Linked DNA regions of Homo sapiens. The protein of the gene in region 1 purifies or fractionates together with the protein of each later gene. This does not show direct contact. Each region holds a gene or a part of one and is shown on either strand. Other genes may lie near its edges.

Region 1 (3,370 bases):
GGGAAGGCATGATTAGCTTTGAAATGTGAGAAAGGACATGAGATTTGCGAGGGACCAGGGTGGAATGATATAGTTTGGCTCTGTGTCCCCACCCAAATCTGTTGAACTATAATCCACAATGCTGCAGGAGGGACCTGGTGGGAGGTGATGGGATCATGGTGGCAGATTTCCCTCCTGTTGTTCTCATGATAGTGAGTTCTCATGAGATCTGGTTGTTTAGAAGTGTGTAGCACTTCCCCCTTTTTGCTCTCCCCTGCTGCCATGTGAAGATGTGCTTGCTTCCCCTTTGCCCTTCTGCCATGACTGTAAGTTCCTGAGGCCTCCCAGCCATGCTTCCTGTATAGCCTGCGGAACTGTGAGTCAGTTAAGCCTCTTTTCTTCATAAATTACCCAGTCTCAGGTAGTTCCTTATAGCAGTGTGAGAACAGACTAATACACATATTGTTTAGAGGAAAAATTTTATTAACAGAGCACAGTAGAAAATAGCACAACGGCCTTCTGATGGGGTACTAATGAAATATGGAAAGATTTAGGAGGTGGAGGCATCAGGTTTTCTGGAAGTAGGGAGAAAATCAGAGGCTAAAGAGTTTGAAAATGTGCACAGAACAGTTTGAGCTCAAAATGCCACTCCTACCTTATTTTGCCAGGTGATTATCAATTCACCACAATTCCCACAGGAAATGAGAGGCATTATCTTTTGCCAAATAGAACTTGATAGGCTATTAACTTGGGTACCCTGGGCCTGGAGGAGGATGGAAATAAGATAGAAGACTAAAAACAGGATACTAAGTGGAAGTCTGAATAAAAGGGGATGAACTCCAACTCCTATCCCACCATGTGGCGTGCCTCTGCCTGCTCGCCAGTAATGGTAGCCAGGCTTATATCCCCCATGCTGACTAGAACATCCTTCTCTGGGGAAATTAAAGAGCAGACCTCTGGAGAAATTACACTTCTCAAAGAAAAATTAACAGGCACTGACATTTAGGGTCCCAAAGGCAAAAAGTAGGTCACACTCAAAGCATCTAACTCAAAGACCCTGGACTTCAGTTGTAGACCCTGAGCAGATTAGACTTTGGATTGTCTCCCTTGGGTAAAATACAGTGGTCTCCCCTTATTCAAAGTTTCACTTTCCGTGGTTTCAGTTACCCTCAATCTTGGCCCCAAAATTTTAAATAGAAAATTCCAGAAATAAAAAATTCCAGTATGTTCTGAGTAGCCTGATGAAACCTCTTGCCATCCTGCTCCGTGCCTCCTAGGACACAAATTATCCCTTTGTCCAGCATATCCATGTCATCTACACTACCTGTCTGTTAGTCACTTAGTAGCCTTCTTGGGTTATCAGACTGACAAAACATAGAACATACAGGGTTTGGTACTATCTGAGGTTGCAGGCATCCACTCGAGGTCTTGGAGCATATCCCCCATGGATAAGGGGGCTACTGTATGCATTAAGTGTGGGAAGAAAGAGTTTGGTGACCGAAAGAACAGACTGTGGTAGAAATAATCTATGTGCTCACCACAATGAGGGGAAAGCTGTATTTCAAGCCTCCCTTTAAGTTAGGTTAGGGTTATATGATTGATCTCTGGGCAACGGAAGAGTAGAAGTGACTTCTAAGACAGAGGTTGACTTTCTTAGTTACAGGATCTGTAGTACCATGGCCATTTTTCCACAATGCTCCCAGGCAAACAAACAAAAAACCCATTAACTATCAATTCCATTTGCTAAGTAGTTAGTTCCAATAACATAATAGTAGTAGTTTGTGATGTCAATAGTTGTAGTTGTGATAATCTCCAGATTTTAAAATATCCTGGGAAGCCTGTGTGAGATCTCTAGAGTGGAATGGGAAACCTTGGCACCGAGTTTGAAACCTGTGGTTCTCAGCTGTTTCTAGGCTAGTGCTTAAAAACACTGCACAATGCTCCAGTTCTTCCTTTCCCTGCCTCTGGGACGTTGGAAGTTATGTGCTCCACACAGCATGACTACAAAATATGGGAAAGCAACAAAATGCTGGAAAGACCCCTGGGGAATAAACTTTCATTCAGTTAAGCTACTCCAATTTGTTGGGTTCTCTGTGGCTAGGATTGCGTAGAGCAACTTAATATGGTAGTCACTTGAGGCTAGTGAGAAATGGAAATCCACACAGTGCCACATTTCACAATTTTAAAAACAGAAGCAGAGTCAAATACTTTTCCACTAAACGTATCTTTATTTTGATAGAACTACAATTCACTTTAACCACTGCATTGCATAGGACACTGTTGTATTATAATGCTTGTACAGGAACGTGCATTATCACTAGTGTTACACATAAACACGTCACCAATCTAGTCAGTATCAACAGATTGATTTGAGTTCAGATGATTTTTTTTTCTATGCACGGATGTAAAATCACAATGTGTTTACTTGGATATTTTATGCAGATAGCACAAGATAGAGTATACCTATGCAAACAGCACAAGTTACAGTGATACCTATGTAAATCAGAATCCTAAAATGAGATACTTAATATTTTCATTATAATTATTTTCTAGGTTAAAAAAATGAAAAAATATTTAAATTTTAAACAAAGGCATATTACTGAGGCAGAATTCAGTGCAGATACAGAAGCTGGTACTACAACTGGCATAGTCAAGAAGACTAGAGACAGTATAGTGCACATTTAATGATGAATGGCAATTGCAATTTACTGCAGCAGAGCAAAATGGAAAAGCTGTTTGTTCTATTCAAAAGTGTTAAAGATACATAGTAGATAATACTTAAGACAATATTTAAGACATGTAATTTTTAGCAACCATTTAGTGAGTGTAAGTCAAAAAAGAATACACAAAATTACTCATATGAACTGCGAGTGAAATTTCTAACAAAACAATTTAAACAACTTTTAAAAGGGTCTGAGTTTGTAAACCTGGCAAGCTATAAAATAGCTTCTTACACATGCATCTACAAAGAACCTTAGATGGAGAGATGAAGAAATTATCACTTTATCGTATTTAGAAAATTATGAGGAAAAGACCTTAAAAGACATTCATGAAAACTGAAAACGTCAATGAAACCATTAAACAATTTTGCTCTTGGATATACATGAACAGAATATATTTTTGCTAATAGAATATTTATATTTTAATAATAAAGACCAATTAATTCAAATCTTGAAAAATTTCAAGTATTTTTCTTTAGCCTTAGATGAACTGTTTGATACAAGACACTGCCCAAAGAAAACTCTGGGTATATTCTGTCTCAAAGAACCTCCAAATTTACAATGTCGATTCATGTAAAGGCAATGAAATGTGAATTCATTGCCTAAAGGCTCAAACTCATGGCAGATATTTTTGACAATCTTCCATCTGTCAAAGAATTTCAGTTAGAGAC
Region 2 (3,500 bases), on another chromosome or scaffold:
GCCTTTCTTGCATTGACTGCGGTAAAGATTTCTGGTAAGCTTCACAGAATTCATGTAGATCCATAGTAAATCCAGATCAGTTTTGGAAGCCTTGGCGCCACAAAGCTTGGAAAAATAGTGGCAAATTTGAAGAATGAAATTAAGACTAAAAACTGGTATGTTCCATTGATTAAAACTGGTGTGATTCTTTCAAATGTGCTTTACTAGGCCGGGCGCAGTGGCTCAGGCCTGTAATCCCAGCACTTTGGGAGGCCAAGGTGGGTGGCTCATGAGGTCAGGAGTTGAAGACCAGCCTGGCCAACATAGTGAAACCCTGTCTCTACTAAAAATACAAAAATTAGTCAGGCGTGGTGGTGGGCGCCTGTAATCCCAGCTACTCGGGAGGCTGAGGCAGGAGAATCGCTTGAACCCAGGAGGCAGAGGTTGCGGTGAGCCGAGATTTCACCACTGCACTCCAGCCTGGGCAACAGAGCAAGTTAACCCCTTCTTGGGGGGGAGAAATGTGCTTTACGAAACAATTTGCTTTTTGAGGATATGTTAAAGAAAAGACTAGGGGAAGGGGAATTATGATGATTAGAGTGTTCAGTCAGTTGGTGACACTGGTTGCTATTGCATTGCCACTGTTTACAGACCCAGGGAACTAACTGCGTGGAAGATGGCTCCAGGGGTTTAGAGCCAGTTTCATTAGACCATGGGTATCACATGCCCATCACAGTGGAGAGATGGACTTATGAACCAGAAAGTGAATTTATGAGCTCACAGTGGGGCAGATGACTGGTAGCAGAGGAAACTATGTCCTCCCTAGAAAATCAGAGGTGCTGGTGGAAGTGAGGCTCTTCCTGGCCCCACGGGTGTGTCAGGAGACACTTCCACTGAGGAGGCCTCTGTGAATGTGAGGAGTTAGCGGGGAGGGACAGGACAGATCCTGCCTTAGACACCGGTTCTTCAGGTGGGTCGTTTGCAGAGGGCTCCCCTCTTGAATTTCATGTTGATTCCCCTTCAGCCTCAGAAGGTCCAGGCGAGAAGCTGGCTTCTGGCTGCATCTGCCCCAGTGTCCTCTGAGGCATTCGGATGGTACTGGCTAATACTCTCTTTTAATTCATTCTGGAGCAGTGATTTTTTTTGGAAACTGCTAACCTCTGTTCAGACGTAATCCTAGGAGGAAGCTTGATATATAAAGTAGGTTAAAATTGAGTTTTCATTAGGGGACTTTGCCCTGGACCTTGTCCCCAACATTTCCCTGAAGAACCCCATAGAGCTTTACAAAGATTATATGAGAGAGAATTTAGTTTTCTTTTTTCTCAGGACCCTAAGGGATCCAGAACTGTTGGTAACCTCATGCTGCCATTTTATATCTGTTTTTGATTTATTCTACAACTAATTATTGACTGTCTATTAGACATTGAGATTTTTATAATTTAAAAAAACTACCCTATTGCATAGAACTATTTTCTTGTTTATTCAGTATATGTACACTTATGACTTAAAAAAATACTGCCTATCAATTTAGCTTAAGGTGTTTATAAAAATGGGGGAAAAGTTTGGTGATGGGTTTTATATTGACGACTTTGGAGGAAGGGGGATGTGGTTCTGACCAGGAGGCTGTAAACATAATAAGTGAAATAGATGGGGTGCTTGTGTGATAGACACATGTGAAAATATACAGTGTAGACCACAGAAGATAGTGGCAGCATGCTGGTATTAGCGCCTCCAACTTGGGTATCAGTCTAATGGCAGAACTTTTGATCACTTTAAAGGGGCGATGACTATAAAAACCACGTGAAATGCATAAGTGAAGATCAGAAGTATGGTGGCAAAGGCTATGAAGGTAAAACCCACAAAGGCGACATCAAACAGCAGGCGTGGATTCAGGTAACGTCTCTCTAACTCATTGAGTAGCTTCCTCTGACAGCTTCCGCTTTCTTTGGAAGCCCAAGAGACTAAGAGTAAATGTGTCATCCCTGCAGACAAGCTCTGGAAACCTCATGTCCTAGGATAGACAGGTTGAACTAAAACCTCTTGAAAAAGAATTCTTTGGCTGGGCATGGTGGCTCACGCCTGTAATCCCAGCACTTTGGGAGGCCAAGGCAGGCGAGTCACGAGGTCAGGAGTTCAAGACCTGCCTAGACAACGTGGTGAAACCCCATCTCTACTAAAAATACAAAAAATTAGCCGGGCATAGTGGCGGGTGCCTGTAATCCCAGCTACTCAGGAGGCTGAGGCAGGAGAATCGCTTGAAGCCAGGAGGCAGAGGTTGCAGTGAGCCGAGGTTGTACTGGGTGACAGAGTGAGACTCCGTCTCAAAAAAAAAGAAAAAGAAAAGAAAGAAAAAAAGTTCTTTATTCTTCTAGCTGTTAAAACAGTTGCGGTGCATTATACCTTTAATCCATGTGTTTTGTTAATTTCTTGAAAAAAAAGTTTTAGAATTCTCATTAGCTTTCCCTTGGCTGTAAAACTAAATGGAAGCTTCTAATCTCTCCCTGCTTCTAGTGATAATGGAGCTTTTATAACTCAAGCCATGTTAATCTGTCACATCTGCCAGTCATTAGAATTAGGCAAAATAAAGATACTTTCGTCAATGCAGAGAATTTTCTACTTAACTAAAACAGCATGAAAACATGCACAGTAGAAATGGCAGAAACATTGACTCCCTAATTCACTGGGAAGTATAACTCTCAGAATGCTACTGATCATTTACAGAATAGGTAGCAGGAGGAAGGATTCAGAAAGGAAGGTGGGATAATGAAAAGACGGATGTCATCTATTGAAAATTCTGTGTTTTTCTAAAAACCAATAAAAAGTAATCGTTCCATTTGATAATAGAGTTGGAACGTGAATTTTTCAGACATTAACTAGCTTACTGAATGAGCATACTACTGGGAGGGTATTTCTGTTCACAAAGGACTTACTAGAGCAGATTGAGAAGCTAATGAAATCCTGTTTGCACTGGTGACCAGCAGCCACACTTTTGAGCACTCTCTGTAATTCTCTAAAAACCAGATGACGTTCCTAGACCCTAAGGTTGAGGTGCATGGGTCTGTGAGTTCCGTCTCTGCTGCTGTCACACTCGATGAAATCCTCTGAAGCAGGGGTCAGCAAACTACAGAAACTTATTACAGCTTTGTAATAAGTTTTGAAATCAGAAAATATGAGATCTGCATTTTTGTTGTTCTTTTCAAGATTGTTTTGGCTATTTGGTATCTTTTGAGATTCCCTGTGAGTTTTAGGATGGATTTTTCTGTTTCTGTAAAAACGTATATATACACACACATTGGATTTTGATAGGAATTGTATTGAATCTGTAGATTGCTTGGGTAGTATTAACATCTTAACAACTTTAAGTCTCCCAGTCCATGAGTACGGAATGTTTTTCATTTATTTGTGTCTACTTTAATTTCTTTCAGCAGTGTTTTTTGGTTTTCAGTAAACAAGTCTTTTGCCTCTTCAGTTAAGTTTATTCCTGATTATTCTTTTTGATGCTGTTGCAAATGGAATTGTTT
Region 3 (3,500 bases), on another chromosome or scaffold:
TTAGAATAGTTGAAAACTATAAAAATATATAACATTTAAGTAGCCCATAACTTCTCCATCCATATATAAACACTGCTAAGGTTGATTGATATATCTCTTTCCAGTTTTAAACATACTTTTACATCTTTTATATGGTTCTGTATACTTGTTTTCACTAAACAGTAGTCCATGAGCATGCCATTAAAAACTCTACATAAGCATTGTCTGAATAGGTAAATAATCTGTTTACAAGTGAGCACATTCTAATTTATTTTTATCCTCATATTTGGGCACTGCTTCAAAATTTTAACTACTGCAAATAATGCCTTAATAGTAATATAAATATTAATAAATACGATCTGCCTATCCAGTTCCTAATTATTTCCTTATAATTGGCATATTAAAATGGAAATTACTAGGTTCAAGGGTACATACATTTTCCAAGCCCCTTGAAGCAAATATCCTACTAGGTAATACATATAAGGTACTTTGCCCACAGTACAATATTGGATAAATGTAAACTTTAGTAATATTGCTATGATGGTTTCCAGGAATGTTTTGCCAACTCATACCCCTTCCACCTATGTATGAGAGTACCTCTCATCACATTCTCAATGACTATTTTTATTATTTAAGTCTTAGCTAATTCAGTAACTTAGAAATTCTATCTTGTTTGATTTTTCTTATGACCACTAGTAAGAATGAATTTTTGTCTCATCTGCTATATTGGATAAATGTATTTCCTCTTTAGGGAATTATCTACTTATCATGTCCTTTGGCAATACCACATGTGTTCCTTATTTGTATAAACTTGTCATATGATAAACAGTTTCTCTGCTATATTTTGTCATAAGTTTGTTTAAAACGGGCATCCCCATTTAAATTGTGTTCATGTGACTGTTGAGTGACTTAAATTCTCTTTTCATATTTTGGTTTAAGGTACCTACGTCCTCAGAAGTAATATTAGCGTTTTTCTCTCAGAGGAAATGAGTAGGTATGTCAAGATTCACAAACACAATTAAACACCAAACAAATCACCAGAAGAGTGATTGCTACTTATTGTCACTAATACATTTTGACCCTAGGCAAATTACATCTTAAAGACCACATCACAGGCAACTTATCAACAAGAAAGAATATAACACCAATTTCCCCCTGGAAGTACTATAATGGTGAGAAGTTCTGTTGAAATTGAAAAGGTAAAGAAGGCCTAGTATGATGGCTCATGCCTGTAATCCCAAAGCTTTGGGAGGCTAAGGCAGAAAGGATTGCTTAAGGCCAGAAGTTCAAGACTGTCTCTACCAAAAAATATTAGCCACGTTTGGTAGAGCAGCATACTTACAGTCCCAGCTACTCAGGAGGCTGAGGTGGGAGATCGCTTGAGCTCAGGAGTGAGTCTGCAGTGAGCTATGATCGCACCACTGCACTCTAGCCTGGCAACAGAGCGAGACTGTGACTCAAAAGAAAGAAAGGATAAAGAAATTTAACCTTTGTTTTCTCTGAAAGCATACTAATTTTAAATAGTGAAAAACTCAGATTAAGCATTCAACAAAAAAGGAGAAGAGGGGTAATTTTTTATTCCAAGTAAAGTGAAAACTAGAAAAACTTTCACAAAAATCAAAAGAAGCCCACTTTACCTGCAAGGCCTGGAGATGGCACTGATGAATTTGGTGACTGGACCGTTCTGTTTGAGGGTGGTCTTGGCTGGCCATGATCTATATTAGTATCTTTCCTCACAATATTGTCCAGCATAATAGTACTTGAACAGTCAATCTTACAAGAAAAGAAATTATTTCAGGGCATTCTGATTTTGCAAGTTAAAAGCTACTTTTAAATTTATAAGAAAGCTTCAATAACTTAATAATTATTATCGAATAACAAAACATAGATACCACATTTGAGAAGTTCTAACAGATATTTTCCCCATAAACAACCTTGAATAAAGGTTTTCACTATCTTAGTGTTTCACCTTAGTAAAATATTGAGGACGCTATTTCAAAAACAGGAGTCAAAAGGAATATCATGTCATTCACACTCTTAAAAATTGAAAAAATTCTTATAAACGACAAAAGCTTGCCATATGAAAAACATAAACTTGGTGAGAAGACTATCACAATTTTACATTTCTTGCGAATCTCTTTAATGTCTCCCTAAACAGCATTCAATCTATTGTGGTATATGGTTTTGCTTGAAAAATATGAAGAAAATCTAGCCTCACACAGATAGATAGGACCTAGTGGATCCTCTGAAAGGGATACTTTAACAACTGATACTCTGGGTATGTGCTAAATAGACGAAGTCCATATATCTACAGCACTAACCTCACTGAATACATTACTGTTGTTTTGTAGGAGAAAAGGTGAACCCTAAAGATTCTTGCTTTAATATAACAGGAATACAAATAACACTTCTTTTCCTTATTCATTGCCAGGCAAAAATATTTACAAATCCCTAATGAGTAAGAGTTTAATACTTTAGACACAAAAATTCTTTCATGCCTACATATACCAAATTTCCCACCAATGTCTTTGGGCTTAAAATCCAGTTCAATTCTTTAACATAGTTCTACTCTTGTTCAACCAGGATTCTATAAGATAATTAAGTCCTACAGCCATAGGGCACAGTTTGTATATAATGAATCAATTTCTTGCTTATGCACCTAGAATGGTACTAGTTATGAAGCACCTTTGGGAGGAATGAGAAAACAGTCACTCATTTCAGCTTATTCTGTAATTCCTAAGAGGAATTTCAGGTAAGAAAGCCTGGTGGAAAAAGGTTCACCTGTATGAGGACTGCAGAGGAAAAAGCAGAAAGAATTTTACTTTCTGTGGGTTCGGGGGCAGGGAAATCGGGCCAGGTGGTTAATATACAGGGTCATTTTTGTTTTAATATTCTTTTGGCAATACTTGGCCAATATTTTTCAAAGAGTACAAAAAGTACTAGAATGACTAAATTCATGAGAACTTAATACAAGGAAAGTTGTTTACTTTGTGGGATAATCCTAAAAGCCAAATAAAACTATGGGGATTAGATGTAAGTTTTCCTATGAACCATCCATGCATGAGAAAATATATGTATTCTACTCATTTAAAGTATACAAAACTATTTTAAAAATGGAATGACTCTGGTAAGATTAACAATGCAACTATTAGGAAATATTAATTGATCTCAACTTGAAAAACAAATAATGAAAATAAAAAAGTTATTTTCACAATCTTATAGGTAATTTGATCCAAGTAAAGAGTACAAGATATTTCCTAAAAGCTTCTTAACATTAGGTGCGTATGTATATGTGCACGACAGTAGGTTATCTAACTTTAGATTAAAAAAAGGATCAAACACAGAATCAACTTATATATGGAGATCTGTCTACAGAATGCAGACTTTCTGCCTTTGGAATAGTCATACTGGCTGGGTGTAGTGGCTCATGCCTGTAATCCCAGCACTTTAGGAGGCCAAGGCAGGAGGATCCCTTCAGCCCAGGAGTTCAAGACCAGCCTGGGTAACATAGGGCGTCTCCC

The links. Proteins that work in one complex are often made in the same cells at the same time.
Region 2: the proteins of ZNF483 (region 1) and LYAR purify together in Homo sapiens (affinity purification with mass spectrometry; one large-scale study listed by BioGRID and IntAct). This does not show direct contact.
Region 3: the proteins of ZNF483 (region 1) and TRIM24 purify together in Homo sapiens (affinity purification with mass spectrometry; 2 studies listed by BioGRID and IntAct, with this or other methods). This does not show direct contact.

Annotation. Positions count from the first base shown.
Region 1 is NC_000009.12:111,552,548-111,555,917, reverse strand, and holds the end of ZNF483 (zinc finger protein 483), read right to left. Parts: 3' UTR 501-3,370; downstream 1-500. UniProt on the Homo sapiens protein: May be involved in transcriptional regulation.
Region 2 is NC_000004.12:4,280,155-4,283,654, reverse strand, and holds part of LYAR (cell growth-regulating nucleolar protein), read left to right. Parts: coding exon 1-34; intron 35-1,757; coding exon 1,758-1,872; intron 1,873-3,500. UniProt on the Homo sapiens protein: Plays a role in the maintenance of the appropriate processing of 47S/45S pre-rRNA to 32S/30S pre-rRNAs and their subsequent processing to produce 18S and 28S rRNAs. Also acts at the level of transcription regulation.
Region 3 is NC_000007.14:138,571,759-138,575,258, reverse strand, and holds part of TRIM24 (transcription intermediary factor 1-alpha), read right to left. Parts: intron 1,753-3,500; coding exon 1,617-1,752; intron 1-1,616. UniProt on the Homo sapiens protein: Transcriptional coactivator that interacts with numerous nuclear receptors and coactivators and modulates the transcription of target genes.